Homo sapiens: one gene and its partner. The protein of the gene in region 2 interacts with the protein of the main gene of each other region in a pairwise test. Each region holds a gene or a part of one and is shown on either strand. Other genes may lie near its edges. The genes, in order: ZFTRAF1 and ALDH3A1.

What was found.
Region 1: the proteins of ALDH3A1 (region 2) and ZFTRAF1 interact in a two-hybrid assay, tested with the Homo sapiens proteins (one large-scale study listed by BioGRID).

The regions. Positions count from the first base shown.
Region 1 is NC_000008.11:144,449,009-144,453,101, reverse strand, and holds the end of ZFTRAF1 (zinc finger TRAF-type-containing protein 1), read left to right. Parts: intron 1-531; coding exon 532-743; coding exon of another isoform or gene 744-922; exon of another isoform or gene 923-1,977; intron 1,978-2,331; coding exon 2,332-2,723; 3' UTR 2,724-3,520; downstream 3,521-4,093. Other genes in the region: TMEM276-ZFTRAF1 (uncharacterized protein LOC157542 isoform 1 precursor), read left to right, coding at 532-743, 2,332-2,723.
Region 2 is NC_000017.11:19,738,117-19,741,919, reverse strand, and holds part of ALDH3A1 (aldehyde dehydrogenase, dimeric NADP-preferring), read left to right. Parts: intron 1-709; coding exon 710-827; intron 828-1,442; coding exon 1,443-1,584; intron 1,585-2,245; coding exon 2,246-2,412; intron 2,413-2,824; coding exon 2,825-2,924; intron 2,925-3,466; coding exon 3,467-3,597; intron 3,598-3,684; coding exon 3,685-3,699; 3' UTR 3,700-3,803. UniProt on the Homo sapiens protein: ALDHs play a major role in the detoxification of alcohol-derived acetaldehyde. They are involved in the metabolism of corticosteroids, biogenic amines, neurotransmitters, and lipid peroxidation.

The DNA of each region.
Region 1 (4,093 bases), on a different chromosome or scaffold from region 2:
ACCACCTGTGTAGCCCAGTGACGGCCCTGTGGGAGGGTGCCTGCACAGGATGGGGACAGGTGGGTTTTGCACCCAGTTGTTATCCGGACATGAGCCTAGCCTTCCAGTGCTCTTTGTGGCTGTGGGGGAGCCCCTTGAAGGGCCCAGGACAGCGTGTCCAACGCAGGACCTCAGGGAGCTTGGTGTGAGGGTACACTGCCCATGGCTACCCATCCAGTGGAGGCAGCCACCAAGTCTCCTGCAGTGAGGCTGTGCAGGACCACCACTGCCAAACAGAGGAGAGAACCACGCCATGGTGCGGGGCACACAGGCTCAAGCTTGCACTCTTCCTTCCCCTCTCTCTCCCTTTTTCTGCCTGTCTCCTTTCTCTCCACATGCTGCCACTCTGACCTCATCCTGGGGGGTGGGCTCACAGTTACGTGTGTCCTGCAGGAAGGGGTTCTTAGCTGGATGGAAGCCATATGGGAGGACAGCTTGTTGCAGCCTCCTGTTCGGGGCTCAGTCTGTGAGTGATGTACCTGCCTCCCCCAGGGTAACCCAGTGCAAGTACAAACGCATCGGCTGCCCATGGCACGGCCCCTTCCATGAGCTGACGGTGCACGAGGCTGCGTGCGCCCACCCGACCAAGACAGGCAGTGAGCTGATGGAGATCCTGGATGGGATGGACCAGAGCCACCGCAAGGAGATGCAGCTGTACAACAGCATCTTCAGCCTGCTCAGCTTCGAGAAGATTGGCTACACAGGTGAGGCGCCCCGCCGCCTGCTGCATGCCACACAGGTGTGGGTTGGGGGGCTGGCAGCCAGGAGTCTGGGGGCAGCAGGCTCTGGGCACTGGGCACTGACAGCGCCGGACAGCCGGGCTCTGGACAAGCTCCCGGTGGACAGGTGGACACCTCGGTCGAGAAGACAGGCCGGAGACTGAGTGGAAGGAGGGGCCGAGGCAGACCCCAGGTGCACACCTGTGTGGCTCTCACAGCAGCCCCGCCCACCTGTCCTCGCCACCCTGGCTTCACCATCCCTGCAAGGTGGCATCTCACTGTGGGGCTCCAGAGCCTCAAGACAGTCAGGGTCTAACCAGAAAGTGGGCAGGTCTCAGGGGGCCTGGGAGCTAGGGGCCTGCCCCTCGGACCCTGGGGCAAGAAGAGCACCCTGCCGAGTGAGGTCCTACCTGCAGGCAGTCACTGCCCCGGCCATGGGCCTCTCAAGGCTGGCACGAAGCCATTCAGGGAGAGGGCTCCACAACAAGCTGAGGGTGCCCGACTCAAACTGTAGAACCGGGAGTGGACACCCACAGACGCCCAGGCTGGATGCGTGCGCAGGCACACTGGATCTCGTGGCTCTCTGGGCCGCTGCCACCGCCTTTGAACGTGTCGGGGAGCAGGAGCCAGGCCAGAGCCTGGCCCAGAGGACAGCGAGAAGCACCTGTTGATGCTGGGGCCACTGGAGGAAGCTCCATCCCTCTACTCTCAGCCCACACCAGGCGGCCAGCTCAGAGCACCAGGCGTGGCGCAAGCAGGGTGGTCGTGGGCAGCCAGTCCCGCCCTGCTGCCTGGACTGTGCCCAGCGGGATGTGGGCCCGAGCAGGCCAGAGAGGCCGAGGGCCTGGGGTCTCTGCGGCAGCCACAGCCCGTGGTGAGTAGCAGCCTTAGCTGTCCTGGAGATACCGGGGCCTCGTGGAGTCTAGGCAGGCTGGGGCACTGTGGCTGTGGCCGTGGCCAGGTGAGAAGCCCCATTCGCGCAGGAAAGACTGGCCACCTGGGAACCCACGCCTCCACGGAGGGACTTGCCGGCCACAGGCTGTGGGCTGCCCAAGAGGACTGTGCAGGCAGGGCTGCCTGCTGATTGGCAGCTCCGGATCAGGCCCGGTGCCTGCAGACCTGGTGCTCCCCTCGGGCAGGGCTGGGTGCCGCAGCCGCCTGCTGGCTTTTCTGGCAGCTCCTCTGTATCAGAACCAATAAAGTGCACTTGTTCTCGGAACCGCATCCTGTCTGTGTGTCTGCTTACCCCGCCCTGGGGGACACCCGGGGCTCGGGGCGGTGAGGGAGGCCAGCGTGGGTCGGGCACGCCTGGGGTGTGGCCTGACACGTGCAGCCTCTGGACTCTCCAGCTAATCCATGTTGATTCTGTTTGTGGTTGTTCCCCTCAAAGCTTGTGTGCACCTCCATTTGCCATAGTTGCGTTTGGCTTGCTTGTGACAAGCAGAGCCCGGTGTCCGGGTAAGTTGCCTTCCTCCCCGGCTGAGCCTGCCCTCGGCCTGGTCAGGGAAGGCGTTGCTGCCCAGCCCTGCCCACACTAACAGCCGGCTCTTTCCGGCCCTGTCTGTCTCCACAGAGGTCCAGTTCCGGCCGTACCGCACAGACGACTTCATCACGCGCCTGTACTATGAGACGCCCAGGTTCACAGTGCTGAACCAGACGTGGGTCCTGAAGGCTCGAGTCAACGACTCGGAGCGTAACCCCAACCTGTCCTGCAAGCGTACGCTCTCCTTCCAGCTCCTCCTCAAGAGCAAGGTCACGGCACCGCTGGAGTGCTCCTTCCTGCTGCTCAAGGGCCCCTACGACGACGTGAGGATCAGCCCCGTCATCTACCACTTTGTCTTCACCAACGAGAGCAACGAGACGGACTACGTGCCACTGCCCATCATTGACTCCGTGGAGTGCAACAAGCTGCTGGCTGCCAAGAACATCAACCTGCGGCTCTTCCTGTTCCAGATACAGAAGTAGGGCGGGGCCTCAGGATGTCCGAGGAGCCCACGGGCGGCATCCCAGCACCGCTGCCCTGTCCACCTGGCTGGCAGCTGCTTCACAGGACTATCTGATCACTTTAGCAAAGGAGGAGAACAAACGAAGCCAACACAGGGCAAGTCTGCATGCGTGCGCGACGGGGCCCCCGCCTCCGGCTCACCCCCCCGACCCCTGCCTCCCCTCCTTCCGAGGGCCGCCAGAGGCTGGGCTGACCCGAAGAGGAGACGGTGCACCAGGCGCCCCGAGGCTCAGAGACGGTGGCAGCAAGGAGGCCGAGAGGCACAGCGACCCTGCCCCAGCCCTTCTGTGCAGTCAGGCGGCGGTGCTGCTCCATCCCTGCGGGTTCCGGCGGGGCGCGGGGGCCTTGCTGACATCAGACGGGATATCCGAATATCTGATAGCAATTAAAAGGCAGCCTTGTTTCGTACTTTCTGTTTTGTTCGAGGGGAAGGCATGGCTGTGAATGGACAGCGTGGGGGCTTTGGTTTGGCCTGGGGGTCAGAGCCTGCCCCGCCCCCATCTGTGTGCCCGCACACGTCCCCCGAGGAAAGACTCAGAGACACTGCCTCCCCCTACACTCTGTCATGGGGTCTTGAGACTGAGGCTTGGGCAGGAAGATCCAGGTAGGGTCGGGGCTGCCCTGGCCAACCGGCCGCTCCCAGGGAGACAGGACTCAGCCACCAGGGCTCAGCAGGCATTTTCCGAAAGCAGGGTGAAATTGTCTCTTCCCAGGAAAAAGATTAAACTCCTTGCAGGCTCTTGGATAAGTTACACAATTTTAGTGAGAAAGAGTCTATTTACTGTAGATTCAGCCTTGAGGGCCCAGCGTCCCCAGGCTGTGTGGAAAGCTTGGGTCAGTGCTTGGGCGCCTGGCTGGGTGAGAGTCTGAGGTGTGTCCCCCATGCTGCTCTCGGGGTCCTGCTGCTGGCCCTGCATTCAGGGCTCGCTGCAGAGGTCAGAGGTTGGGCAGCCCAGCTTCTCACCTGGAGGAGGTGGGCCCTTCCCATCCTCACCCTGGCCGCCCCCTGATGTGCCCCGTGGTGGCTGAGCAGGGCTGGCCTAACAGGATGGGAAGGAACCCTGCCTGGAGGGGTAATCCCTGGTCCTTTCTTCCCCTGGGACTCCCAGGGCTACTGGGAAGGATACAGCTTGACGCCCCCACCTTTGCTTAGGAGATGTGGCTCTTCCGTGATAGCTTTTTGTTGCTTCAATACCAAAGAACTGGTTTCCTCTGCTCCAGTCAGGTGCATTAACTTGCCTCACAGCAGCCCAACCCGCCCCCACTGGCTGCTGGGGCCTGGCCCACATTGTCCTGTGCTTTGCTGGTCACGGGTCGAGGGCTGAGAAAT
Region 2 (3,803 bases):
TCTGAGTAACACAGACACCCCCTGCCTCATGGAGCAGTGGTCCTTGCAGAAACTTACATGGGGGTAGGGGTGGGGACCACATGCACAGAAGACGTGTGGGGAGTCCCAGAAGGCTTCCTGGAGGGGGAGAGGTCTAGGCTGAGCTCTGTTTGCTGAGTGCGCATCACTGGGGAAGTGGTACTCCAAGCAGAGGCTGCAGAAAAAGCAGCTGTGGGACGTTCAGGACACAAGGAACTGTACTGGGTTCAGCCCTCTGATGGGGCAGGGCAATCTGAGTTCTGGAGAGCAGGCCCAGAGGGGAGAAGGGCCACCGCTGCTCGGGGTCTGGGGCAGAACCCGTATCTGCACCTCCTGACCCTAGCCAGGGCTCTGACCACCTCCATATCCCACATCTGTGGCCCCAGAGATGTAGGGGGGCCCGAGTAGCAGTGACACCTGGCTGTGCAGGACAAGGGCGTGATCAGGGAGCACGGAGGTTGCCCTCAACAGACGTCCTCTAGAAATTCCCCACCAGTCGCCGGTGAACATGATCAGGGCCATTGGGTCTGCTCGGTCCAGTGTCTAGAAGTGAGCAGACCGCTTGGGAGGACTCACTGGTGGCAAGGTCACAGCCGATGGCTTCTGCTGACCAGAGAGCTCAGGGGTCTGCAAAACGAGATGCAACTCCTGGGGAACCTTTTGGATTTAGTCCAGTCTGGGATTCTCACAGACGCATCGCCTGGGGGAAATTCATGAACAGTGGCCAGACCTGCGTGGCCCCTGACTACATCCTCTGTGACCCCTCGATCCAGAACCAAATTGTGGAGAAGCTCAAGAAGTCACTGAAAGTGAGTGTTGACCCCTTGGCAGGGTGGGATGAGAGGCTGTAAGGCACAAGGGGGGCCTGGCCCCTTAACCAACTTCTACAGATTTGGAAACACTGGATTTATTTTCTTCTAATATAAACATAATGCAAGCTAGGCATGGTGGCTCACACCGGTAATCCCAGCACTTTGGGAGGTAGAGAGTGGAGGATCACTTGAGGCCAGAAGTTTGAGACCAGCCTGGGTAACATAGCAAGATCCCATCTTTACAAAATATGTTTTTAAATTAGCCAAGCATGGTGGCATGGTGGTGCATGCCTGTTGTCTCAGCTACTTAGAAGGCTACGGCGAGGCTGGAGCATTGCTTGGGCCCAGGAGTTTGAGGCTGCAGTGAGCTATGATTGCACCACTGCACTCCAGCCTGGGCAACAGAACAAGACCCTGTCTCTAAGAGAAAAAAAAAAGATAATGCACACTCACTATAGATTATTTAGAAAAGATTAAAAAGCATAAAGAAGAAAAAAGCTCCACCCAGAATCCCACCACCCAAAGACAGACACTGCTGGCCTGTGTCTGTGCAGCCTTTGGGCAGGACGAGGCTCTGCGTCCTTACCCGAAGCCCCCACCTCTTCTCCACAGGAGTTCTACGGGGAAGATGCTAAGAAATCCCGGGACTATGGAAGAATCATTAGTGCCCGGCACTTCCAGAGGGTGATGGGCCTGATTGAGGGCCAGAAGGTGGCTTATGGGGGCACCGGGGATGCCGCCACTCGCTACATAGGTGCGTGACCCCTGAAGAGCACAGCCCACCTGCCCAGGCTGCAGGGGTCCCCAGCAAGTTCACAGCAAGTGGGCACAGATGCTTGATAAGCGGACACGACCTCGGGATGGGTATAAATTGCTTTCACCAGGGAGCCTGCGGTAGACTCCAGCAGGCAGGGGCTGAGGACAGCCCCTGCTTCAACCTCAGAATCCCCTCTCCCAGCAAAGGCCCAGAAAGAGGGGCCTCATCTCCCTGCCCCTCTGAAGCAGCAGGAGCAGGGACAGCAGAAGCCACAGGAGCCCCAGGTGTGCCCAGCCGTGAGGGGCCCCCAGTGCCCAGGCTGTGGGTCACCAGATGGGACCCTCTTGGCCCCGAGTTTGTCAAGGAGACAAGAGAATTCTGGCAGGGCATCAGGTGGCCGGCAGGTGCAGTGCCTGCTCCTGGAGACAGATCTCGGGTCCTTCCGTACAGGTTAACCTATAGTTGTCCCCAGTGGTCTGCTCAGATGGCATCCAGGACGCAGGTGCCTAGGGTACCTCTCTGAGGCCTCGTCCCTGCCCTTTTCCAAGCCTGGGCAGGTTTGCCTGGAAAAGGGTTGGAGCAGGGGTCTAGGTGCTTGCACTTTCCATCCGCGTGGGGGTCTCTGCGCCGTCCAACTCTGGCTTGTTTCCTGCCTCAGCCCCCACCATCCTCACGGACGTGGACCCCCAGTCCCCGGTGATGCAAGAGGAGATCTTCGGGCCTGTGCTGCCCATCGTGTGCGTGCGCAGCCTGGAGGAGGCCATCCAGTTCATCAACCAGCGTGAGAAGCCCCTGGCCCTCTACATGTTCTCCAGCAACGACAAGGTGGGTGGTGGGCCTGGGGTGCCCTCTGCCAGGGTCCTGGGGCCCACAGACCTGGGTTCAAACTGCAGCTTCACTGTTCTCTGGCTGTGTGACCTTGGGCAAGTCACTGGATCTTTCTGAGCTCCTTTCACCTCGTCTGTAAGATCAGGACAGCAGCATCACCTGAGGGCACTGAATGAGCGATCCTTGCCCAGGGCCCTGCACACAGGCATGGGGGCGGCTGCTGTCACTCTTTGCTCATGTGGTGCTGACAGCCACGCGGTCTGCAGGAAGAGCAGGAGATGGAGGCTAAGGCTCTGCCTCCACCTGCTCCTGTCCTTGTGGCTCCAGGCTATACCCAGGCAGGGTCGGGTTGGGGGCTGGGGCATCCTGTGGGCAGGAGACTGAGGCCAGTGGCTGGGTCCTGGTGCAGGTGATTAAGAAGATGATTGCAGAGACATCCAGTGGTGGGGTGGCGGCCAACGATGTCATCGTCCACATCACCTTGCACTCTCTGCCCTTCGGGGGCGTGGGTGAGTCTGGGGCTGAGCTTGCTGCCTCCCTCTGGGCCCCAGGGCTGGGCACACTCACCCAGCAAATTCAGGAGGGACCACCTCCTGCAGCCCGGGCGGCAGCCTCCCATTAGCCTCTTCCATTTGGACCTTGGCCTCTGCGTGCCATCCATCAGACACACTTAACCTGGGAGCCTAGAGGTTCCTAGAGGTCACCTGGTGCACCGGCCTATTTCATGGAGGCCTGAGAAAGGTGACCCAGGCCAGAGGTCACACAGCCATTTAGTGGCAGAGCTGGGATTAGACCCTTGCTGGGCACTCCCACAGTGTGGATGCCCTGGGGACACCCTAGACATTGGCCACCCTCAGGAGGCCCAGAAAAGGGCCACAACCTGGGGCTGGGTGCTGAGGGCCATAGGATTTGAGGGAAGGATGGGTGATGGTGGCTGGGGCTCTGCCTCCCTGTCCCTGTGGTTCTGGGATACACCCAACAAGGTGGAGAGGGAAACCTGGGGCGTCCTGGGGGCAGGATGCTGAGCCCTGTGCTTACTTCTCCTCCGCAGGGAACAGCGGCATGGGATCCTACCATGGCAAGAAGAGCTTCGAGACTTTCTCTCACCGCCGCTCTTGCCTGGTGAGGCCTCTGATGAATGATGAAGGCCTGAAGGTCAGATACCCCCCGAGCCCGGCCAAGGTGAGAGGGGGAAGGCGCTGTGGGGGAGACCGGGCTGTGCGGGACCAGGGCCTGGGGATCACTGCCCACTCCGTGTCCCTTTCACAGATGACCCAGCACTGAGGAGGGGTTGCTCCGCCTGGCCTGGCCATACTGTGTCCCATCGGAGTGCGGACCACCCTCACTGGCTCTCCTGGCCCTGGGAGAATCGCTCCTGCAGCCCCAGC